Linked DNA regions of Homo sapiens. The protein of the gene in region 1 interacts with the protein of each later gene in a pairwise test. Each region holds a gene or a part of one and is shown in the gene's direction. Other genes may lie near its edges. The genes, in order: GABPB1, alpha-crystallin A2 chain, MAGEB18, SNRPB2, GIPC1, STIP1 and VBP1.

The links.
Region 2: the proteins of GABPB1 (region 1) and alpha-crystallin A2 chain interact in binary tests that used the Homo sapiens proteins (3 or more experiments, as listed by UniProt).
Region 3: the proteins of GABPB1 (region 1) and MAGEB18 interact in binary tests that used the Homo sapiens proteins (3 or more experiments, as listed by UniProt).
Region 4: the proteins of GABPB1 (region 1) and SNRPB2 interact in binary tests that used the Homo sapiens proteins (3 or more experiments, as listed by UniProt).
Region 5: the proteins of GABPB1 (region 1) and GIPC1 interact in binary tests that used the Homo sapiens proteins (3 or more experiments, as listed by UniProt).
Region 6: the proteins of GABPB1 (region 1) and STIP1 interact in binary tests that used the Homo sapiens proteins (3 or more experiments, as listed by UniProt).
Region 7: the proteins of GABPB1 (region 1) and VBP1 interact in binary tests that used the Homo sapiens proteins (3 or more experiments, as listed by UniProt).

What each region holds. Positions count from the first base shown.
Region 1 is NC_000015.10:50,306,699-50,310,198, reverse strand, and holds part of GABPB1 (GA-binding protein subunit beta-1 isoform beta 2), read left to right. Parts: intron 1-400; coding exon 401-508; intron 509-3,500.
Region 2 is NC_000021.9:6,558,203-6,561,595, forward strand, and holds part of alpha-crystallin A2 chain, read left to right. Parts: intron 1-1,869; 5' UTR 1,870-2,580; coding exon 2,581-2,769; intron 2,770-3,393. UniProt on the Homo sapiens protein: Contributes to the transparency and refractive index of the lens. In its oxidized form (absence of intramolecular disulfide bond), acts as a chaperone, preventing aggregation of various proteins under a wide range of stress conditions.
Region 3 is NC_000023.11:26,137,214-26,141,142, forward strand, and holds MAGEB18 (melanoma-associated antigen B18), read left to right. Parts: upstream 1-1,129; 5' UTR 1,130-1,254; intron 1,255-1,710; 5' UTR 1,711-1,772; coding exon 1,773-2,804; 3' UTR 2,805-2,840; intron 2,841-2,966; 3' UTR 2,967-3,523; downstream 3,524-3,929. UniProt on the Homo sapiens protein: May enhance ubiquitin ligase activity of RING-type zinc finger-containing E3 ubiquitin-protein ligases. Proposed to act through recruitment and/or stabilization of the Ubl-conjugating enzyme (E2) at the E3:substrate complex.
Region 4 is NC_000020.11:16,736,526-16,740,025, forward strand, and holds part of SNRPB2 (U2 small nuclear ribonucleoprotein B''), read left to right. Parts: intron 1-735; coding exon 736-876; intron 877-2,326; coding exon 2,327-2,377; intron 2,378-3,500. UniProt on the Homo sapiens protein: Involved in pre-mRNA splicing as component of the spliceosome. Associated with sn-RNP U2, where it contributes to the binding of stem loop IV of U2 snRNA.
Region 5 is NC_000019.10:14,489,628-14,493,127, reverse strand, and holds part of GIPC1 (PDZ domain-containing protein GIPC1), read left to right. Parts: intron 1-211; exon of another isoform or gene 212-215; 5' UTR 216-271; intron 272-1,384; 5' UTR 1,385-1,472; intron 1,473-3,500. UniProt on the Homo sapiens protein: May be involved in G protein-linked signaling.
Region 6 is NC_000011.10:64,192,671-64,196,170, forward strand, and holds part of STIP1 (stress-induced-phosphoprotein 1), read left to right. Parts: intron 1-407; coding exon 408-617; intron 618-1,518; coding exon 1,519-1,660; intron 1,661-1,808; coding exon 1,809-1,950; intron 1,951-2,974; coding exon 2,975-3,143; intron 3,144-3,500. UniProt on the Homo sapiens protein: Acts as a co-chaperone for HSP90AA1. Mediates the association of the molecular chaperones HSPA8/HSC70 and HSP90.
Region 7 is NC_000023.11:155,222,960-155,226,459, forward strand, and holds part of VBP1 (prefoldin subunit 3), read left to right. Parts: intron 1-3,500. UniProt on the Homo sapiens protein: Binds specifically to cytosolic chaperonin (c-CPN) and transfers target proteins to it. Binds to nascent polypeptide chain and promotes folding in an environment in which there are many competing pathways for nonnative proteins.

The sequences.
Region 1 (3,500 bases):
ATCACATGAACCCAGGAGGCGGAGGTTGCAGTGAGCCAACATCGTGCCACTGCACTCCAGCCTGGGTGACAGGCCGAGACTCTGTGTCAAGAAAAAAATAAATAAATAAAAATTTAGGCCAGCTTTTCTCTGCTACTTACCTCTTCTATCTTTTACCAGATGTATTTGGAGAATTTAAACTACTTTTATTCTAAGTAAAAACTTAATGAGAAAGGAAAATGGATTCTAAAATCCAAATATAAATTGCTTTTGTATGATCTGTAATTTTAAATTAACCATAGCACACTCTTTTGAAGGGATAATTGAGAACTGACTTATTAATAAAGACAGGAAGGGAAAATGTCATGTCATAGTGTATAAATGGAGATTTTGATGTTCAGTTCATCTATGTTTTGTTTAGATGTCCCTGGTAGATTTGGGAAAGAAGCTTTTAGAAGCGGCACGAGCAGGTCAAGATGATGAAGTTCGTATTTTGATGGCAAATGGAGCTCCCTTTACTACAGACTGGGTAAAGAATGATTTTAATATTGTGTGTTCTTTTTCCTTCTCATTTTTGAGTTTTTGCAGAGAAAAATGTAGTCAGTATTGTGTTTATAAGTGGTAAAAAGTTATTATTTTTGCAAATGTGTTTATTATTTTAGAATTATAACTGTCCTAAAAGAAGTGGTTTATATTATTTTCTTTGATATTGGACAACCTTATCCAAATATTTCATCCACAAAGAGTTTTTCTTTCAAACTGTGGAGTGCATTAATGTGGCATGAATATAAAAATGTATCTGCTTGGGATTTAATTTAAAGGCCTTATAAATAGCACAGGTAGAATTTATAATTCAGAAAGATACTGATAAAGATTGGAGTTAGTGTTAATAGTCACTCCTAAAAGAAAAACAAGTTTATGTTTCAATTATTACTTGTAAAACTGTTGCAGACATGACGAAAGAGGAAGAAAGGAATGGGAATGAGATCTTGACAACTATGGAAAGAAGGTAGTTGTGGGGAAGGCAAAAAAAAATAACTCTTTAATTCTGGGGGCAAATAAAAAAGTATTGTCTTGTGGATATGGAATGCTAGGAATCTGAATTAACCTGCCCATTGGTAACAACTAAAAATTCCAGATTTTTGATTTTGCCGTTTTTGCCTTTCTTTCTCTTTTTACATTTTTCATGAAAAAACAAAATTTTTTATTATAGAAAATTTCAAATATATATCAACGATATCCCTGTAATACCCTTTACCCAACTTCAAAAATTATCAAATCATGATGAATATTGTTTCCTCTATAACTCTGTCTACTGTATTATTTTTTGTTCTGTATTATTTTAAAGCAAATTCCAGGGACCATATCATTTTATCCATAAATGTTTCTTTAAAGAATAAATAAATCTTTAAAGAATAAAGACTTTTTGATGAAATATTTTAAAGAAAGTCTTCTTAAGTACACTGCTGAATTAGAAAGAAAGAGATTATCAACCTGAAAAACTAAGTGAAGGCAAGAACCCAGAGAAATTTTACCCTAAAGAACATTAGGTGAACTCACACTTGTCTGGTGGTTTTTCCACCTCACTGGCTTGGGGTACTAAAGCTAAAGACCTGAGAGTGTTCATGGAGAGAAGTCTGATAGGAGATCTTATCTCATAATTCTGGAATCCCAAAGAGCTGCACCTTCAGTGTAGGGATAAAGCAGGAATACCCTGTCCCTCCTCCTGTCTGCTCCTGCCCTTGCCCCTGTTGCCGTGATGCTGCAAAGATAATAAGCTGATGTGAACCAAGACATCAAATGGAGAGAGGAAAACAATCTGATGGTGAGAATTTGGAATCACAAGGCATCCTTTTTACACACTTGCAGCCTGAACTCATAAATACTTGTGTAGTCTAAAAAACTGTAAACTGAGAAATGAATTTGAAGTGATCTTTGGACTAGGGATTACCCCAGGCTCTTGACAGAAGCAAATGAATATCTGCTCTGGAGGAACCTGCCTTCATCCCAGGCTTCATATCCACAAATGAAATTCAAAGGAAAGTGAGCAGTCAGAAATAACTAAACACATGAACACATGCCAATTTGGACAGTAATCTGCTAAAACAACTGTCAACAGAAGCAGACCTATAAGGACTTGAGATAAAATTTTAGTAACAGATTAGAAACAGCTAAAGAGAAAATTAGTAAACTGAAAGGTATGAAAAAAAAAATGATCCAGACTATGTCACAGATAAAAATAGATAGAAAATGTAAAAGAGATGTTAGGAATCATGAAGGATCATGTGAGAAAGTCTAACATCTGATCATAGATCCACAAAAAGAGCAAAAATAGGGATGAAATAATTCAAAGAGGTAATTGCTGAGAATTTTCCAGAACTGATGAAAGATGGCAGCCCACAGATTTGAGTAGCCTAACAAATCTCCAGCAGGATCAATTTAAAAACTAATCTATATCTAGATATATCATAGTGATGCTGTAGTACCTCAAGACAAAAAGATCTTTTTTTTTTTTTTTGAGATGGAGTCTCACACTGTTGCCTGGGCTGGAGTGCAATGGTTCAGTCTCGGCTCACTGCAACCTCCGCCTGCCGGGTTCAAGTGATTCTCCTGCCTCAGCCTCCCAAGTAGCTGAGATTACAGGCACCCACCACCAAGCCCAGCTAATGTTTTGTATTTTTAGTAGAGATGGGGTTTCAATATGTTGGCCAGCTGGTCTTGAACTCCTGACCCCGTGATCAGCCCGCCTCGGCCTCCCAAAGACAGAAAGATCTTAAGAAGGATTAGTATCCATAATACATAAGGAATTCCCATGGGTTAGCAATAAAAAGACAAGGCAATAGAAGACTGACTGGATATGGTGCTTTACCAAGGAGAAAGTTTGATCAATAAACATGAAAAGATACTCAACTACATTAAAATTGGGGCAAATGCAAAGTAAAATCATGAAATACTATTATATATCCACCAGATTAGCAAAAACAGTTGAGCAGTACCAAGGCTTGGTGAGGAGATGGTGGGAACTCTCAAATATTTTTGGTGGAAGTATGGAATTGGTATAATCGTTATGGAAGACAGTTTGGCAGCACATAGTAAATTTGGAGATGTGCATAGTATATGATGTAGCAGTTGGGCTTCTAAGACTATTCCCGAGAGAAGACTTGTTCATGTGCCTGAAACATATACAAGACTACTGTATTTAGCAGCAACATTATTCATAATAACACAAAAACTGGAAACAATCTAAATGTTCATCAGTAGATTGGTTAAATTAATTGTGGTTTACTCATTCAATGGAATATTATAGAACACAGAAAATTAGTAAGCTATACTTACAGTTATTAACATGGTGAATCTCATGAATACAGTGTCAAGCAAAAGAAGGCAAGTCACAGAGAAATACATGCAGTATAATTCTGTTTAAATAAAACTCAAAACAGGCAAAACCAAAGTATATTTTTTAGGGATAAGTGATACAAAGAAAACTAAGTAATGCTTGTCACAAAATTCAAAATATTAGT
Region 2 (3,393 bases), on another chromosome or scaffold:
GGAGGCTGAGGCAGGAGAATCGTTTGAACCCGGGAGGCAGAAGTTGCAGTGAGCTGAGATTGTGCCACTGCACTCCAGCCTGGGCGACAGAGCGAGACTCCATCTCAAAAATAAATAAATAAAATAAATAAGTAAATCAAAATGAATGCAAAAAATTTGTGGTGGACAAACTGTCAACATTTTACATAAAGCCAGGATGAGGACGACGGCCTTCTCCTTTTGCTTCAAGCTCCAGCATGGCTCTGCCCAGCACTGACCGTGCTCCTGGCCTGGCTCGACCCTCCCCAGGGCCAAGCTCCATGCTGGTTTCCATCCCAAAGGACTCTTCTTCCCCCTCCCTGTGCCCCGGGAATAGGCAGCCAGCACAGTGGGGCCGCCCGCTGCCTCACCCAGACCCTGCCACTGCTTGGATGTTGACCCCCAGACTGGAAAGGTGGCTTTAAACCCCCTTCCCTTCTTCCAAGCCAAGTGACCTGGGTGTGCGGCTTAACCTTCTAAGCTCCCATTTCCTGGTCTATGAAGCGGGAATGATGCTGGGACCTGCTTCACAGGGTGGCTCTGAGGACCCACAGGCAGAGAGGTCTGGTGTAGGCTTTCGGGGGAAGCACCCATCACTCTCCCAGCGTTTCCTATCTGCACCTTAATTTGGCACCCCAGGGAATCGCTCCTCTGGAATTGTAACCTTGCAGGGCAAAAGCTATCATTTCAAGATTTTTTGGGATCCTGTGTCCCCGGACAGTGCTGTAAATGTAGGAGGAAGGGTGCTGCTCATGGGTGCTGCTCATGATGGAGGTGCCCCGTGGAGCACGCCTCGGAGCCCCCCCTTTCATCCCTGATCCCATCTGGGATGTGTCAGGTCTGATCCGCATACACTGGGGCATCTGACATTTCATGGCCTTCTGAGCCCATGGGCTGGAGATGAATTTGCAAAGCCCGGGAGTGTCCTGGGTGTGTGTTCACTCCACACGCACGAATCTGTTAGAGGCTGAGTAGGAACTAGGAGGCCAAAGAGAACCAGGCAACTTCCCACAGCCTGGACCGTACACTAGAAAAGCTAGCCTGGGAGAGGGGGCATGGCCTCTTCCCAGGCTGGCAGGGGGGATGTGGGGGAGGACCATGCTCCCCAGGGCCAGTTTACCAAAATATCAAAATACCAAAATATCAAAAGACTTAAAACTAGGAGTGAGCCAGGTGCAGTGGCTCACGCCTGTAATCCTACACTTTGAGAGGCCAAGGCAGGTGGGTCACCTGAGGTCAAGAGTTTGAGACCAGCCTGGCCAACACGGTGAAACCCTGTCTCTACTAAAAATACAAAAATAATAATAATAATAATAATAATAATAATTAGCCAGGTGTGGTGGCAGGCACCTGCAGTCTCAGCTACTCAGGAGGCTGAGGTGGGAGAATTGTTTGAACCTGGGAGGCAGAGGTTGCAGTGAGCTGAGATCGCGCCACTATATGATCTGGGCGCCACTCTGGGTGACACAGCAAGACTCCATCTCAAAAACAAACAAACAAAACCGGGAGTGCCTGGACACTTAGTGAGAACTGGACAGGGGCCATGGGTCGAGGAGCAAAATAATCACCAGGACTTGTGGATAACAGGATCATGTGGGTGGTGGGTCCGCATGGGTGACAGGGACGTGGGGACATGTCGCCACCCTGACAGGAGCAGCCCAACTCAACAGCCACGGCAGGTCATGCCACGGAGGCTCGAGGCGTTACGTGGGGATGTTACATCAAGGCATTACATCATTACGAGATGTAACGCTCGAGGCGTTACATCGAGGGGATGATGGCCATGGGGCTGGGCGTCCAGGGTGGGCCGCAGAGGGAAGCTCACCACGTGGTGCTCTCATCTGCCCACAGCCCAGCCCGTCTTCCTGTTGGAGGCATGTGACCCCTGGAGGACAAGCATGAAACGCCATAGGGCTCCCCCAGGTGCTGGAATTATGGCACCTTGCAGCTTCTTCTCCACGAGTTTTAACAAGCATGCGTACTTTTGTAAGTGGTGAGTGTAACGGAGGTTCACAGATGCACTCCGCTTTGGAAACCAGTGCACTCTTGCCCAGGCCCGGTGAGACTCTGACGACGATGTGTCTAACCTCTGTGTCTAACGGGGGTGTGGGCTCTCCCTCCTCTGGCGACCATGAGGACCACCCCGGCAGGACAAGGTGTGCAGAGAACTAGCATGGTCCCTGGCACGTAGCCCCTGCCCAGTGACTGGCAGATGAGAAGCTCCATTGTCGCCCCAGGCGAGTATGGGGCACAGGCGCCTCCTTGGGTTGTCTGCCCTCCCGGGAGCCCCAGGGTGCCCAGGCGGGCCTCAGCTGAGTCCAGGCCTCGGGGACAGTCCGTGCAGCCCCTCCTGGGGCTGGGGGCGGGCACTTGTCCCAGCCACGTTTCTGCTGACTGAGCAGCCTTCTTCATGAGCTCACGCCTTTCCAGAGAAATCCCTTAATGCCTCCATTCTGCTGGTGGCATATATAGGGAGGGCTCGGCCTTGGCTCCACACTGCGCTGCCCAGAGGCCCCGCTGACTCCTGCCAGCCTCCAGGTCCCCGTGGTACCAAAGCTGAACATGGATGTGACCATCCAGCACCCCTGGTTCAAGCGCACCCTGGGGCCCTTCTACCCCAGCCGGCTGTTCGACCAGTTTTTCGGCGAGGGCCTTTTTGAGTATGACCTGCTGCCCTTCCTGTCGTCCACCATCAGCCCCTACTACCGCCAGTCCCTCTTCCGCACCGTGCTGGACTCCGGCATCTCTGAGGTAAGACGTGGCCCGTGGTGCTGGCCTCTCCTCGCTGCTCAGAGGGTGGTGGCCTCGGTGGGTGGAGAGCGATGGACTCTGGTCTTGCTCCGTCAGGCAGGTGGCCTCGTCCCACTTCATCCCCTTGCAGAGGCTGGGCGAGAGCCTGTGTCCCCACTGCAGCCACGTGGTAGAGCTTCCCCTGGCACTGGGGAGAGGGTGGACAAGGGAGCAGCCTGAATCCACCTTTGCTTTCCTCCATCAGCTCATGACCCATGTGTGCTTTGTAAGGCACCAGCCACATACTGGAAACCCCAAGAGCAGCCCATCCAGGCATGCGTGGTGGCGAATGCCAGCTCCCGGGTTCCTCTGGTCTCCTGAGTCCCGGAGACCTGGGAGCAGGTGGGGGTCATAGTCCTGAAAGCCAGAGAGCAGGGCGTTCCTAGCACCTCCTCCAATGAGCTCGGCCTGCCCACGGCTAGCAAAGCTCTTGGCAAGTTTACTTAGGTGCCCTGCCAAGGCTAAAAGGACAGGCAATGGACGCCCCCCCCCCCCACCCAACCACAGGCCTCCTCTCTGAGCCACGGGTGAGCGGTGCAGGTTCTGCTGTTCTGGAGGGCCTGAGTCCCACCCAGCACCTCATAA
Region 3 (3,929 bases), on another chromosome or scaffold:
CGGAACAATGGATACTGGGGCCTTTTAGAAGGTGGAGGGTGGGAGGAAGGAGAGGGTCAGGAAAAATAACTAATAGGTGCTAGACTTAATACAAGGCTGATAAAATAATCTGTACAACAAACCCCCATGACACGAGTTTACCTATATAACAAACCTACACATATACTCCTGTACTTAAAATAAAGGTTAAAGAAAAAGAAGCCTCAAGGAATCTTGTAAAAACATTTGTGCTACCTCAAGACTTTAAGTCATGAAATTCACTGTGAACTGGATTAGGATCTTACGCGAGGGGCATAAGTAAAGCTTTTCAGAAATTCAAAGCTGACTCAGCCAGTGTAGTAGAAACAAAACAAACATAATATACAAAGCATTAAATTGAAAGTAATGGTTCCAAATAAGGAAAGATCCTAGCTACTTAAGATTTTCTCTGAGAAGTTCTTTTCTGGATTACTTTTAGTGCCTGAATGAAAGATCCTTTGATGTTTCTGTCATCCTCATTTTTCTCCTAATGTACCATCCTGAAAATCTATTTCAATAAATTTGAGAGGGCTTTAAAAATAAAAAAAAATGGAATGAAAAATATACCATTCAAAAGAGCAGCAACATTCAAAATATACCTAAAAAGAACATTCACAAAAACATACACACTCTATCAAAGCAAATATAAAAATGTGTTGATAGACTTAGGTGGATGCCTAAGTACAGCAATACAATATGTTTATATATGGTGAACATAATATTGTACAGATGTCAATTATCTTTATTTACAGATTTAGTGCCTTATTTGATGGCCTCAAGTCAGCAGAGAAGTGGCCCAGCACCTACAAAAAGTCAAGATAAGACACTGAGTGAGGACTGAGGGCATTACCTACCCAAGAAGAGGGACCCCCACAGAGCCCCGCCCCTACTGTCAATCTTGGGAGTCCCCAGGCGTGGCTGCTGGGCTCAGGTTCCACCTTACTTCCTACTCTGGACTCAGGGAAATGATCCTTTTTCTGAGGCTGACTGATTCAGCTTAGCAAAGAGAGAAGTCCCAGTGCCTGCAAAGTCAATGAAAGAAATATATGTATTTCTTTAAGAACTGCCCCTCCCCCGAACGCAGAACCATTTGCCGTTAAGCTGGGAGAGCAAAGTGGGCGTGGCCGGACATGTTTCTCTTGACCTATCTTCCACATCATCAAGCTGTTACGGGCGAAACCTTGGTCTGAAACATGCGGCCAGAGAAATAAATCTCAGGATCCGGCAGGTGTCAAAGTGAGTATCATTTGTTATGACCTTCAAGACACACTCTTCCCAGAACAGAGGCTGCCTCACAGAGACCCATCCTTCTCTGCTCTGTCCTGCTCCCACTTTCAACTCTCTGTGTCCCAAAGCGCAGCTGTTAGGCCTAACACCCTTACTTCCTGTTGGGAATCTGTGGGATGGGAAGCCATGGTCTAAAGCGAGGCAGCCTCAAGTCAACAGACGGAGGACTCAAAAGACTAAAGTAAAATTAATATCCTAAGTTAGAACTGATGTAGTCAGGAGTAAAATTAATATCCTGAGTTAGAACTGATGTGACAACCCCCCACAGAACAGTCCCACCCCGCTCCTGCCTTATGGGTTCCTAAAGCAATACCCTCAAGAGAACCAGGAGAGGTGGCCATTCTTAGACCAAGGTAGAATCTCCCTACCAAGGCTGTGAACACTATCTCATCCTCCGTCTTCTAGGGTGCCCTCTTCATCAATTCAACTGCCTGCACTATTGTCTGTAGTCCCTGACAAGAGTAATTATGCCTCGAGGTCAGAAGAGTAAGCTCCGTGCCCGTGAGAAACGCCACCAGGCTCGTTGTGAGAATCAGGATCTGGGAGCTACGCAGGCCACTGTGGCAGAAGGAGAGTCACCCTCCCCTGCCTATCTTCTCTTTGGTGACAGACCCCAGAATTTGCCTGCTGCTGAGACACCTAGCATCCCTGAAGCGCTTCAGGGAGCCCCATCCACCACCAATGCTATTGCACCTGTTTCATGCAGTTCAAATGAAGGTGCCAGCAGCCAAGATGAGAAAAGTCTAGGTTCCTCAAGGGAAGCTGAGGGCTGGAAAGAAGATCCTTTAAACAAGAAAGTAGTGTCGCTGGTGCATTTCTTGCTTCAGAAGTATGAAACGAAAGAGCCAATTACAAAGGGAGATATGATAAAGTTTGTTATCAGGAAGGATAAGTGTCACTTCAATGAGATCCTCAAGAGAGCCTCTGAGCACATGGAGCTGGCACTTGGTGTTGATTTGAAGGAAGTGGATCCCATCAGGCACTACTATGCCTTTTTCAGCAAATTAGACCTCACCTATGATGAAACAACCAGTGATGAAGAAAAAATTCCCAAGACTGGCCTCCTGATGATTGCACTGGGTGTGATCTTTCTGAATGGCAACCGTGCCCCAGAAGAGGCAGTCTGGGAAATTATGAATATGATGGGTGTATATGCCGATAGGAAGCACTTCCTCTATGGGGATCCCAGGAAGGTCATGACCAAAGATTTGGTGCAGCTAAAGTACCTGGAGTACCAGCAAGTGCCCAACAGTGATCCTCCACGCTATGAATTCCTGTGGGGTCCAAGAGCTCACGCTGAAACTAGCAAGATGAAAGTCCTGGAGTTTGTAGCCAAGATACATGATACCGTCCCTAGTGCCTTCCCATCCTGCTATGAAGAGGCTTTGAGGGATGAGGAACAGAGAACCCAAGCCAGAGCTGCAGCCAGGGCTCATACTGCTGCCATGGCAAATGCACGTTCCAGAACCACGTCTAGCAGCTTCTCCCATGCTAAGTGAAATCTGAGGCTTGTTCTTCACTTTTTGGTCGAAAAGGTCTGTCAACATTCTAATAGTGGAGGGCCATGGTGGGGCTGGAAGAAATAAGTGTATATCATCTTTGCATTCCTATTGTATATTGATAACTCGAGTTTTACTTTTCCATCTTTTTGTTTCCCCTAGGTTACATTTCAAATGTTCAAGTCTGAAGATTGTTTTCTTTGTGGAAGAGAAGAGCAGTCAACATTCTAAGTAGTGAATGGCCAGAGTGCGTCTGGAGGGAACACAGCATATATCATTTTGTGTTAATAGTCTATAGTAACTCGGAGTTGTATCTTTTTCTTTCTTTTTTTTTTGGTGTTATATTTCAAATGTTGTTGCTTATAATAGAAGTTTTAGATAACTTCAGAATCTATATTTATTAATGACTTTGGTTACACACGTATTGCTATTTAAGAGTAGGAGTTTTATTGTTCTGTAAAACAAATTGGGAAACCTTCTTTCATATTTAATGAGCCAGAACAAGGAAACACAGTATTGGAATAGGTATTTCCTTAAAAAATGTGAGATGATTTAGCAGTAAAATTTTGGAGATCAAAACATAGGTGAGAAAAAGTAAACTTTTCAGTTCTTGGTTTTCTTTTTCCATTTTAGTCTGTTATATAAAAATAAAAGTCATACCTGGATTGGCTTAGCTTACTGAAGAAGGTAGGAAGAAATAAAATGTTTATGAACCAGCATCTATGCTTACCGGCTCATTCATTCCTCCAATATTAATCCAACATCTGATTTTTGAAAGTAATTTTGTTAGAAATGGGAAAACCAGGATACAAAACACCCACCTCTGCTTAGACTTTTACAATTAATGAACAGTAATAATGTATGGAAGATGGTGAAATACTTCTAAGACCTAAAGGACAAGTAACAAGAGGGAGTAAGGAGGTAAGGAGTTAGAGAGGGGTTTGGGAAAAGTGCTGAAGTGTATCTGGCTGAAAATGGTAAGGTGCAAATTCTCTGAAGAAAGGCCCTTTTAGACTTTTGGAAACTTTGAGTCTCTCAGTGGGATATACTTTTAATTTAAGCTGGGTGGTGGGCTAGATGAAGCTTTGGGACTGGAGAGCAGAGGCCAGGCACTCAGATGGTGTG
Region 4 (3,500 bases), on another chromosome or scaffold:
GTTTAAAAGAAATTTTCCATCTAGTTTTCTGCCAGAAAAGTTGTTCTGTGGGGACTCTGCCAAACCAGCCCTAGTGTTCTGTGGGCCTATTCTATCTGTAAAACAGGATTAGTCTAGAATGGCGATTTTCTTTATTTTTCACCAGCTCCCTCAAATTGCATCCCTAGGTGCTCCCTCTGTGACTGTGGGGTGAGGGTAGGTTTGGAGAGGAAAGGGCATTTGGCCTCCAGTGGGCTCTGGAGCCACAGTTCTATGTCAAGCTGAGCAGTTTTGCTTTTGTTTGTTTTATATGTTGTTTGTTGAATACCTCTGGATTAGAATAGCTGATCTTGAGCCAGATCCTCAGGCACTGAGGAGATTTGAACAGTTCAGGATTCCAAAGCCCGCTGGTGGAGCCCACTCATTTGTTCCTTTAACACTTCAATGCAGTTTTCTCTATTCTTTGATTAAATGGAGAGAAGCCGTGGTACAGATATTTCAAAGTCCTGTGTTTCTCACATGAAAATATATGTTTTTTTAATCTAATAAACACACTTGAATCTAACTTTGTCTAAATTATGAATTATAGCCCACAGTTTACTTCCATTTGGCACTCAGTATATTCTGACAGATTTTCTTAGGGATATGTTTAAAATTAGCTTGTAGTGTATTTGCGTAATGAAATTTGAAATATTAATGACTAGTGTAAACATCCTTCAGCATGAGAAGTAACCTGTTTTCAAATAATTAAAACAGCGAATACAGTATGCAAAAACAGATTCGGATATAATATCAAAAATGCGTGGAACTTTTGCTGACAAAGAAAAGAAAAAAGAAAAGAAAAAAGCCAAAACTGTGGAACAGACTGCAACAACCACAAACAAAAAGCCTGGCCAGGTAAGAAAGACCAAGAAAGTTCCTGTTTGTATTGGTGTTAAAAACTTGATAGATGCTTGTCTTACAGGTAAGGAATGATCTTAGGCTTGTCTGTATATGTGCATAAATGTGTGTTTAAAAGGTGGTTTTAAGAAGCTAGAATGGTTGACTTATAAAATTCAGTATTAAGAAACAAAATATAAACCTTAACATGGAGATTTATATTAAGCAGTTTTATATTTGCATGGCATTTAATTCGATCATTGTTTAAAATATGTTAATACCTTTTGGTTTATTTCTCAAGTTTTGCTGCCTATAAATAATACTGTAGTTATTATCTTTAATCATGAGTACTTCACTCAAAGTATCTTTCTGGCTGGGCGCAGTGGCTCTTGCCTGTAATTCCAGCACTTTGGGAGGCCGAGGCAGGAGGATCACGAAGTCAGGAGATCGAGACCATCCTGGCTAACACGGTGAAACCCCGTCTCTACTAAAAATACAAAAAAAATTTAGCTGGGCTTGGTGGTGGGTGCCTGTAGTCCCAGCTACTCTGGGGGCTGAGGCAGGAGAATAGCATGAACCTGGGAGGTGGAGCTTGCAGTGAGCCGAGATTGTGCCACTGAACTCCAGCCTGGGCAACAGAGTGAGACTCTGTCTCAAAAAAAAAAAAAGAAAAAAAAAAACCCAAAAAACAAACAAAAAAAACAGTGTCTTTCTTTGAACAATTCAGTAATGCAAAATATAATTTGAAATACCAGATAAAAGTGAAATGAACTGCTTGGCGCCATGGTGGCTCATGCCTATAATCCCAGCACTTTGGGAGGCTGAGGTGGGTGGATCACCTGAGGTCAGGAGTTCAAGACCAGCCTGGCCAACATGGTGATACCCCGTCTCTACTAAAAATACAAAAAATTACCTGGCCGTGGTGGTGGATGCCTGTAATCCCAGCTACTCAGGAGGCTTGAAGCAGGAGAATTGGTTGAACCTGGGAGGCAGAGGTTGCATTGAGGCAAGATTATGCCATTGCACTCCAGCCTGGGTGACAAGAGCAAGACTCCATCTCAAAAAAAAAAAAAAAAAAAAGTGAAATTCACCAAAAAGTAATTACTTCTGGATTGAAAGTGATTAAAAGTCAGTTTTATTAAATGACTTATGTCCAGTTGTTTTTAAAAGTAAGACTAGGCCTTGGTTTTCTCTTATATATTTCTCCATAATTTTAAAGCTAAGAGGTTAAATTTTATAATATACTATTTAAAGTTTAGGGCTGGTCTTAACAAAAATAACCGACAAATTAAGAACATGAGTGTTTGAGTCAGTGTTAAGATATAAATTCTTAAAGTAAAATTAAATGGAGTAAGAAGGATATCTCTTGGAATTAATGTTATTTTTAATGCAGTAATTATAAATATAAATACCTGCTGCGTTTTTGGAGGGATTGGATATTTAAACTCTCCCTATTTATTTTGCTTAGGGAACTCCAAATTCAGCTAATACCCAAGGAAATTCAACACCAAATCCTCAGGTAATTTTTTTTCCATGTCGTGCTTACCTTAAAATAAGATTGTAAAAATTACAGCAGTGGTATAAAACAATTTCCATGTCTCCAAAAACAAAATGATTTCATCTACAAGACACAGTGCGTTAAATTGTCTGCCACTGCAATGTAAGAACTCAACTCCTGAAGAACATTTTAATTCTTTTTTAGAGAGAGAAAACGACACCTGACTTTATTTCTTGTTTTCCATAATGAATCAATGACAGAATCAAAATGACAGACTTTAAACTCTAAGGGCTGGGAGCAAACATTTTGGTTTCCTCTACAGTACCTAAAGCTTTACACAGTTGCATGGGTAAGGGTAACTGGCAGGGTCAGGGGCTCTCTTCCATTCCAGTTGGTTGAAACACTACAGTGTTACACTCTTTGGGCACATAGTTTTATAGTTAACCTTTGCTCTCACTTCCTGAACACAAATAAATTCCAGCCTTTTTTTTTTAAGCCTCCTTGTACAAATGTTTTAGAAACTCCGTATTAAATCTCCCCATGACATACCTCAAAGAGAAGGCCTCAGTAATGTGCTGATGGTTTCATACTTTTTTTTTTCCAGATGGCGGGGTCTGGCAAGATCCTTAAATCCATAGAATTCTCTGTACCACTGAGGTTTTTCTCCTCTTGTTTTAAGTTACTTGGGTTTTTTATCTCCTCAGCATTTATAGTCCAGTTCACAAATGCCAGCACTTAATCCTCTAAGCCTTGAGTTGTTCACTAATTATTTTTTATACTTGCTCTTTTCTCTTTTATGACAGTAGCAGGAAGACAGAGCTCTTTTCTTATATAGAAGACCCTTTCTTTAGTTCCCCATAACCTCTGGGTGGGATATCAAATGAGTAATATCTAATAAACTAAGTGTTTGTTACTGCTTGTTTGTATGTAACTAGATGCTGTGTATATCTCATTTATTTGCCAAAAATAAGTAAATTAAAAGTCCCTAAGCAGTGGTTCTCGGTGGTAATCTTTCTAGTTCCAATTTTTTTTTTTTTTTTTAGTATGCTGGGAAGTAGTAACAGTACAGAGGAATTGAGTATCTGAGTGATACTGAGTGTGGTAACCAGCTACGGAGGGGTGACATTGCTGGCCATCTCTAATT
Region 5 (3,500 bases), on another chromosome or scaffold:
AGGCTTCATGGAGGAGTGGGCCTGGAGTAGGTATTGGCAGGCAGAGAGGGTTGGGATATTCCTGGGCAGGGCAGGGCAGAGGAGGAGACACCCATAGTAATGACAACAGCGTCCTTAAATGGAGTCTGAGGCAGAGTGTAGATGGGATACGTGGGTAATCTCTTTGGATTTCCACAACCACCTTGAGAGTGACAGGAATTCCACCCATTTTTCAGATGAAGAAACTGAGGCCCTGTGATGTGAAGTGACTTGCCCCCCAGCCACACAGCTGGTAAGTGGCAGGGGTGGGATTTGAACCCAGGCCACGAAGCCTCTTATGGCCGTGGCAGGCAGATTCATTACTCACTCACTTTCCTCACTGCTGTTAATGCCTCCTCACGGGTGGGGACACGGAAGCTGGCATGAACCAGGGCAGTGGGGTGGGCAGAGAGAGAGAGTAAGGAGGCTGGGAATTGGTGGTCAGGATGTAGGGATCTTGGGAAAAGGAGGAAGCTTGAATCTTGGTACAGATGGCAGTAGCAAGGCCGGGTGCAGTGGCTCACGCCTATAATCCCAGCACTTTGGGAGGCCGAGGCAGGTGGATCACGAGGTCAGGGGATCGAGACCATCCTGGCTAACATGATGAAACAGCGTCTCTACTAAAAATACAAACAATTAGCTGGGCATGGTGGCGGGCACCTGTAGTCCCAGCTACTCGGGAGGCTGAGGCAGGAGAATGGCGTGAACCCGGGAAGCAGAGCTTGCAGTGAGCTGAGATCGTGCCACTGCACTCCAGCCTGGGCAACAGAGCGAGACTCCGTCTCAAAAAAAAAAACAAAAGATGGCAGTAGCAGTAATTGTCACCAATATTTATGCAACCCTTATTGTGTGCCAGGACTGTTCCAAGCACATGCATGATTTCCTTGGAGCTCAGAGAGGTTAAGACCCTTGCCCAAAGTCACACAGCTATTAAGAGATGAAGCCAGGTTCCAGATTCATGTTTTTAGTTTCCTGCCTCCCAGTGCGTAGAGCTGGCGGAATTGGAGGGATGATGAGGGGTCTTTTCTTTTTTCTTTTTTTTGAGATGGAGCCTCACTCTGTCACCCAGGCTGGAGTGCAGTGGCACGATCTTGGCTCACTGCAAACTCCACCTCCCGGGTTCATGCCATTCTCCTGCCTCAGCCTTCCGAGTAGCTGGGACTGCAGGCGCCCGCCACCACGCCTGGCTAATTTTGAAAATATATGGCTGGGCGTGGTGGCTCATGCCCACCTCGGCCTCCCGGAGTGTTAGGATTACAGGCGAGAGCCACCACACCCGGCCGACACTGATTTTTCTTTCCAGCGAGGTCAGAGCCCGGGGAGGGGTCAGAGCAGAGACAAATGCGACATGACTTATGTTTTACAGGACCATTCTGGCTGCTGTCTGGACAAGAAGTCGTAGGGGGTGAGGGTGGAAGCTGGGAAACCCACAGGAGGCAACCACACTAGTTTAGGTAAGTGATCATGGAGATGGACCAGGTGAGATGAGAGGGTGTGTTAGGGGACAGACGAATGGATGCATGAACAAATGGATACATGAGACTAGGTGCAGGCTGGGTGCAGTGGCTCACACCTCTAATCCCAGCACTCTGGGAGGCCAAGGTGGGCGAATCACCTGAGGTCAGGAGTTCCAGACCAGCCTGGTCAACATGGAGAAACCCCATCTCTACTAAAAATACAAAAATTAGCCAGGTGTGGTGGCACGCACCTGTAATCCCAGCTACTCAGGAGGCTGAGGCAGGAGAATCGCTTGAACCTGGGAGGTGGAGGTTGCAGTGAGCCGAGATCGCGCCATTGCACTCCAGCCTGGGTGACAGAGTGAGAGTTCATCTCAAAAAAAAAAAAGATTGGATGCGGCCAAGCTGAATCCAGCATGGCCCCCTGGAAGAGACCATTGGATAGGAGGCACCAGGAAGTCCCTTTTACATAAGAAAATATAGGCTGAGCGCAGTGGCTCACACCAGCCTTCTTTGGCTCACACCATGTTGGCCAGGCTGGTCTCAAACTCCTGACCTCAGGTGATCCACCCGCCTCGGCCTCCCAAAGTGTTGGGATTACAGGCGGGAGCCACCGTCCCTGCACCCGGCCTAACTAATGTATTTTCTTTCTTTCTTTCTTTCTTTTTTTTTTTTTTTGAGATGGAGTCTCGCTCTGTCACCCAGGCTAGAGTGCAGTGGCATGATCTCGGCTCACTGCAAGCTCCGCCTCCCGAGTTCACGCCATTCTCCTGCCTCAGCCTCCCGAGTAGCTGGGACTACAGGTGTGTGCCACCACGCCCAGCTAATTTTTTTTGTATTTTTAGTAGAGACGGGGTTTCACTGTGTTAGCCAGGATGGTCTCGATCTCCTGACCTCGTGATCCACCCGCCTTGGACTCCCAAAGTGCTGGGATTACAGGCGTGAGCCACCACACCTGGCCTTTTTTTTCTTTTTGAGACAGAATTTCGCTCTTATTGCCCAGGCTGGAGTGCAATGGCACTGTCTCAGCTCACCTCAACCTCTGCCTCCCAGGTTCAAGCGATTCTCCTGCCTCAGCCTCCCTAGTAGCTGGGATTACAGGCATGTGCCACTACACCCAGCTAATTTTGTATTTTTAGTAGAGATGGGGTTTCTCCATGTTGGTCAGGCCAGTCTCGAACTCTCGACCTCAGGTGATCCGCCTGCCTCTGCCTCCCAAAGTGCTGGGATTACAGGCGTGAACCACCGTTCCTGGCCTAACTAATGTATTTTCTTTTTTTTCTTTTTGAGACTGAGTCTCTCTCTGTTGCCCAGGCTGGAGTGCAATGGCACGGTCTTGATTCACCGCAACCTCCACCTCCCAGGTTCAAGCAATTCTCCTGCCTCAGCCTCCCCAGTAGCTGGGATTACAGGTGCCCACCACCGTGCCTGGCCTAATTTTTTGTAATTTTAGTAGAGACGGGGTTTCACCATGTTGGCCAGGCTGGTCTTGAACTGCTGACCTCGTGATCCGCCCGCCTCGGCCTCCCAAAGTGCAGGGATTACAGGTGTGAGCCACTGCACCTGGCCAACTACTGTAAGTTCTGGAGAACTAATCCGGGCTCTTGAGAGCAAGCACTCATTGCTTCCAGAGCTACTTCAAGCCATTCAGGAGAGATCTGGCCCCATAACACAGACACCTCCCACTAGGCCCCACCTCCCAACACCGCACCACCACTTTGGGGATCAAATTTTAGCATGAGTTTCTTTTTTTTTTTTTTTCTCCTTGCCATGTTTCACATTTAATAAGATTCTGTCACTTTAATACATAAAACCCTTTGAAATCAATGTCAACCAGGAAAATTCATGTTAGAAAAAATTGGAATGAGAGCTAATATTGTATATTCAGAACATCTGAAAAAACATTTTTGACTATTACAAAAGTTTATTTAACAAAAAGTCTAATATGAAAATGTACATGACCTAATTTTTACATCATAGTAAAACAGGCCCTATGGAGAGAGGACATGGGTTTCTCTGCTGAAC
Region 6 (3,500 bases), on another chromosome or scaffold:
CCCACCTTCTTCCTGTGAGGGGTGACTAGGGCTGTGCTCTGTTTGTCATTTGGATGCTTTGGAAATCTGTGGCAAATGAATTGACTTTTCCATGGAAGGAGCATGTGGCACATTCTGGAGTGGCTTCGTGAGCTCCATGTGGAGACCGGAAGAGTGGCAGAGCCCTCGTTCGTCACATGGGGGCCAGCGTGGAGTGCAGCCTGGGCTCTTTGCCCCTGCTTATTTTTTCTTTGCTGGCTCCTTAGGGAAGGTGTGAGAAATTAAATAAATGAACCGGTTTTCTCTCTTCTGATCTGTAAAGTCACCTATTTATTTGTTGGTAACTACATGAAAGAATGAGTGTTGTCTTTAAAGCTTGGGATTAAATGGGCACATCATAGAGAAGCTGTGTGTTCCTTTCCCCTCAGGTCAATGAGCTGAAGGAGAAAGGCAACAAGGCCCTGAGCGTGGGTAACATCGATGATGCCTTACAGTGCTACTCCGAAGCTATTAAGCTGGATCCCCACAACCACGTGCTGTACAGCAACCGTTCTGCTGCCTATGCCAAGAAAGGAGACTACCAGAAGGCTTATGAGGATGGCTGCAAGACTGTCGACCTAAAGCCTGACTGGGGCAAGGTCAGCTGTGGGCAGTGGAGGGAGAGAGGCCCTTCAGACCCTTCCAGAAATGCCTTTTGGTGGCCTGAGGTTTACCTGTCCTGATACACTGATAGTTACCTACCCACCTCCCTGTTTGAGTATCCTCCTCAGAAATGGCATTTTTCATCAAATCTAAGGTAGCCATTAGTTGTAATACAGGCTTTATTTTTGGTACTAAGAAGGAAGAGGCCAGGGCTGGGCGCGGTGACGCACGCCTGTGATCCCAACACTTTGGGAGGCTGAGGTGGGCGGATCACTTGAGGTCAGGAGTTCAAGACCAGCCTGGCCAACATGGTGAAACCCTGTCTGTACTAAAAATGCAAAAAAATTTAGCCAGGCATGGTGGCATGTGCTTGTAGTCCCATCTACTCAGGAGACTAAGGCAGGAGGATCACCTGAGCCTGGCAAGCGGAGGTTGCAGTGAGCTGAAATCGTGCCACTGCATCCAGCCCAGGTGACACGGCAAGACCCTGTCTCAAAAAAAAAGGAAGAGGCCCGGTACAGTGGCTCACGCCTATAATCCCAGCACTTTGGGAGGTTGAGGCAGGAGGATTACTGGAGCCCAAAGGTTTGGGACCAGCCTGGGTAACATAAGGAGTCCCTGTCTTTACCAAAAAAATAAGGGAAAAAGTGTTGCCAAAGAAACTGACCACAGTCGATCAGAGGTGAACAAGGCGGGGCGGATGTGCCTCTGCTATTTGGATGGATCCTTACAGTAGCAGCCTTGGCCTCGTAGCCTACTCCTCTCCTTTTTTTCTCTTTGGCCTTCATGTGAATACTCATTTTTCCCCCATAAAAGTAGAATTGTTCTTTTTTGAGTTCGTCTTCTAGATTTACCTCTGGGTGTTCTCTATTTTGTGTCTGTCTTTGGTGGTTTAAGGGCTATTCACGAAAAGCAGCAGCTCTAGAGTTCTTAAACCGCTTTGAAGAAGCCAAGCGAACCTATGAGGAGGGCTTAAAACACGAGGCAAATAACCCTCAACTGAAAGAGGGTTTACAGAATATGGAGGCCAGGTTGGCAGGTAGGTACCACGCACAGTTTTCTTTCTTATTATTAATGTGATTAATTTTGAGTCTTCACCCCTGAGAAATGTCAGTCTGGTAGGGTATGGGACACAGTAATTCTAGTGAACTCATTTCATAGTGATGTGCTTTCCTTTATTTGGACAGAGAGAAAATTCATGAACCCTTTCAACATGCCTAATCTGTATCAGAAGTTGGAGAGTGATCCCAGGACAAGGACACTACTCAGTGATCCTACCTACCGGGAGCTGATAGAGCAGCTACGAAACAAGCCTTCTGACCTGGGCACGTAAGTGGACGCCGCTCACTGAGGTTCTGGAAATCGGGGAATGTTATGCTTTCTTCCTGTAACCTCACAGCAGAGGGTTCCCTGGTCTAAACTGCAGAGTTTTTGCCTTTGCTTATTCTCTGCAGAGCAGTAGGTGGTGGTCGTTTATTTGTAATTATAGAAAGGGTCAGGGGAGCATATTTCACAGTAATCTAGAATGTTCTTTGTCATCTGTATACACCTCTCTCCTGCTCTTCTAGAACTCTGATCTAGCGTCAACCCCATCCTTTCCATCTACTTAGGCCCTACTTTCTCTGTTGGTATATCAGAGTGGAAACAGGGTTGAAGTTCATGTGTAAAGATGTGTCTAAATCTTGTACTGGTATTCATCTCTATCAATCCTCTGGCTCCTGAGATCAGCTACGGAAGTATACCTAAAACAACTCATTCCTCTGTGTATCTGCTAACCTTGAGGAATAAACTTGACCTCTGTGACTTCATTTTATTTTATTTTATTTTATTTTATTTTTTCAAGATGGAGTCTCGCTCTGTCCCCTAGGCTGGAGTGCAGTGGTGTGATCTCAGTTCGCTGCAACTTCCACCTCCTGGGTTCAAGCGATTCTCCTGCCTCAGCCTCCTGAGTAGCTGGGATTACAGGTGTACGCCACCACGCCCAGCTAATTTTTGTATGTTTAGTAGTAGCGGTGGGTTTCACCATGTTGGCTAGGCTGGTCTCAAACTCCTGACCTCAAGTGGTCTGCCCGCCTCGGCCTCCCAAAGTGCTGGGATTACAGGTGTGAGCCACCGTGCTCCGCTATCTGTGACTTCATTTTATTTGTTTTTGTTGACTCTATTTTAGATAGTGTTTTGACGGTTTGAGTATTTCTCAATTGTAACTCATGAGTGGTGCAAAATCTAGCCATCTTTTGATGGGTGAGGAGCTTCTAAACACAAGAATCTGACTTTAGTAGTAAGTGGGAGTTAAAAGACTAATTGTGGGGAGGAGTAATTACAATTTTTCTTTATTTTTTTAAATCAATACTAGGAAACTACAAGATCCCCGGATCATGACCACTCTCAGCGTCCTCCTTGGGGTCGATCTGGGCAGTATGGATGAGGAGGAAGAGATTGCAACACCTCCACCACCACCCCCTCCCAAAAAGGAGACCAAGCCAGAGCCAATGGAAGAAGATCTTCCAGAGAATAAGAAGCAGGTCTTGTTTTTTTCTCTCCTCACTGTCACCTATCTATAAACAACTAGAAATCTTTATGTTGAATGGGGACATCTGTTGACCTTGATTGACCATGATTATTATGGTTTTTTTAGAGACGGAGTCTTGCTGTGTTTCCCAGGTTGGTCTTGAACTTCTGGCCTCAAGCGATGCTCCTGCTTCAGCTAGGATTACAGTCACGAGCCACTGTGCCCACCTAAAACTATTTTGAGTGCTTTAGTATGCGCTAAGCTTATGGCTATTATTCATTAGAATGGCCAGCATGTTAAAAAATCAGCTTCAGGCCAGGCACGGTGGCTCATGCCTATAATCCCAGCACTTTTGGAGGCCAAGGTGGGC
Region 7 (3,500 bases), on another chromosome or scaffold:
AGCCTCCCAAGTAGTTGGAGGGCTACTTTTCTCTTTTTATTTTTCTGGAATTTCTCTCACTCCTATGATGTCAGCTATGCAACAAAACTATTTTTGTGTCATGATCTAGTTGTTTTGCAGCAGATGGCTCTATGTAGTTTACATGCTAGCCTTTTTGTTTTTTTTTTTTTTCAATTTGCTATTATTTTATTTAGGATTTTTGAATTTCTGTTCATAAGTGAGTTCAGCCTATTTCTTTCTTTTTTTAATTTTTTTAGTATTGATCATTCTTGGGTGTTTCTCGGAGAGGGGGATTTGGCAGGGTCATAGGACAATAGTGGAGGGAAGGTCAGCAGGTAAACATGTGAACAAAGGTCTCTGGTTTTCCTAGGCAGAGGGCCCTGCCGCCTTCCGCAGTGTTTGTGTCCCTGGGTACTTGAGATTAGGGAGTGGTGATGACTCTTAACGAGCATGCTGCCTTCAAGCATGTGTTTAACAAAGCACATCTTGCACCGCCCTTAATCCATTTAACCCTGAGTGGACACAGCACATGTTTCAGAGAGCACGGGGTTGGGGGTAAGGTTATAGATTAACAGCATCCCAAGGCAGAAGAATTTTTCCTAGTACAGAACAAAATGGAGTCTCCCATGTCCACCTCTTTCCACACAGACACAGCAACAATCTGATCTCTCCTTCCTTTCCCCACATTTCCCCCTTCTCTATTCGACAAAACCTCCATCGTCATCATGGCCCGTTCTCAACGAGCTGTTGGGTACACCTCCCAGACGGGGTGGCGGCCGGGCAGAGGGGCTCCTCACTTCCCAGACGGGGCGGCCGGGCAGAGGCACCCCCCCACCTCCCGGACGGGGCGGCTGGCCGGGCGGGGGCTGCCCCCCACCTGCCGGACGGGGCGGCTGCCAGGCGGAGGGGCTCCTCACTTCTCAGATGGGGCGGCTGCCGGGCGGAGGGGCTCCTCACCTCTCAGACGGGGTGGCTGGTCAGAGACGCTCCTCACCTCCCAGACGGGGTGGCGGCGGGGCAGAGGTGCTCTTCACATCTCAGACGGGGTGGCTGGGCAGAGGCGCTCCCCACATCTCAGAGGATGGGCGGCCGGGCAGAGACGCTCCTCACTTCCTAGACGGGATGACGGCCTGGAAGAGGCGCTCCTCACTTCCCAGAGTGGGCGGCCGGGCAGAGGGGCTCCTCACATCCCAGACGATGGGCGGCCAGGCAGAGACGCTCCTCACTTCCCAGATGGGGTGGCGGCCGGGCAGAGGCTGCAATCTCGGCACTTTGGGAGGCCAAGGCAGGCGGCTGGGAGGTGGAGGTTGTAGCGAGCCGAGATCACGCCACTGCACTCCAGCCTGGGCACCATTGAGCACTGAGTGAGCGAGACTCCGTCTGCAATCCCGGCACCTCGGGAGGCCGAGGCTGGCAGATCACTCGCGGTCAGGAGCTGGAGACCAGCCCGGCCAACACAGCGAAACCCTGTCTCCACCAAAAAAATACGAAAACCAGTCAGGCGTGGTGGCGCGTGCCTGCAATCCCAGGCACTCGGCAGGCTGAGGCAGGAGAATCAGTCAGGGAGGTTGCAGTGAGTCGAGATGGCGGCAGTACAGTCCAGCCTCGGCTCGGCATCAGAGGGAGACCATGCAAAGAGGGCGAGGGCGAGGGTGAGGGTGAGGCTAGCCTTTTTCTTTGTATGTGTTGTAAATCTTGCAGCCTGTCATTTAACTTTACCCTTCAAGCTGTGTAAAAGTTCCTTAGTATTTCATGTGTTAATCTCTTTTTCGACACTTGAATCTGAGATCTTTTATCTTTCTTTAATTGGAAATTTTGTGATTATCACTTTTTCTATCGTCTGTTAATTTTTTTTCCTCTTTCTTTCTGGGATTCCTGTTTACAGATGTTGACACTTCTAATTCTGCCTTCCATTTATTTATATTATTTCCCTTTTTTCTGTCTTTGTCATTTATCTTTTGGCAATTAGATGGATAGCCATGAGTTCTTTGTTTCAGCTGTTAAGATTTTTATAGCTGGTAGTTCTGGTTGGTTCCTCTTCATATTACCAATATCCTTTCTTTTCTCTTTGTGGTATCTTTAAGTATTTAATGTATAGTTTTATCTTTTGGTATTTGTTAATTTTGTTTCATATGGTAGAGGTTGTTGAATTTATTGTCTTTATTTATTATAATGATCAAATTATAATGTCTTTTCCCTGTCAGCTTAGATTCCCTCAGGGATATCAGCTACTTTGGCCAGTAATGTACGTGGAGGTGGGGGTAATTTAAGTCACTCCTGGTGGGTAGCAGTGGCGCTACCTCGGCTCACTGCAACCTCCACCTCCTGGATTCAAGGGATCCTCCCGCCTCAACTTCCCAAGTAGCTGGGATTACAAGCATGCACCACCACGCCCAGCTAATTTTTTTGTATTTTTTTTTAGTAGAGACTGAGTTTCACCATGCTGGCCAGGCCGGTCTCGAACTCCTGGCCTCAGGTGATCCACCCGCTTCGGCCTCCCAAAGTGCTGGGATTACAGGCGTGAATCACTGTGCCCAGCCAAGCTACTTTCTCTTCAGGTGAAGCAGGGTAGGGAGGAGTGTATTGCTTGGGCATGTGCTGTGTCATTGGTGGTCTGGTTCCTAAGTTAGCTAGGGCTGCATCTGATTGATTCATTAATATGCTTTATAGCATATTACATATAATATTTATATATACAGAATGCATCTTAAAAGTCATTTACATGACAAAAAATCTTGATCTGAACATACTCCTTATGTTGTGTGTGTATCACATATTTTACAAATGTATAACATCTTTCTGTTTACCTATATGAACATATCATGCAAAAATAAGCAAACTTGAGCAATCTATGGCATCCAGATTGAATTGTAGTGAAAAAATGAATGCTAGGTGTTTCTAGATTATTCACTGGACTGTATTATCAAATGATGACACTATGTTTTTTTCTTAAGCAGCAGGCTCATTTAACACATTTCTTGCCAGGTCAGTAGCACAGGGTGTAGTAAATTTGCCCTGCCAACCTGCTGCACACATGGAGTGACTTCTTTTATGTGACGCAATAAGTTCATTTTCATTGTTGTGTTTATATTTTGTTTACATTTTGGTCTCTAATAATATTTAGTAAATTTACCTCGAAAGAACCAGAGCTTCGTTTTTATATCCTTAGTCTGTTTTGCTAGAAATTACATTTGACAGAGACCCTAGAACTGTTTTGCATATATCTCCATGCAAAACACATGCATCTAATTACCATAAAGAGCTAAACCCCAGTGACAAAAACGGTATCATTGTTTTCTCTCTTTAATTGACTGAATGTTTTTAGCATACTGTTTTTCTCTTATGTTCTTGTCAGTGAGGTTGATTGCATTTGGGAGTCACTTACTAGCATTTTGCTAGTAGCTATCATATAACTTATCCATTAAGTCGGATCAGTTGTATCATGTCCATCATTGTTTTTTTAAATTTCTTGTGTTTAAATCAGTGATCCATTTATAATT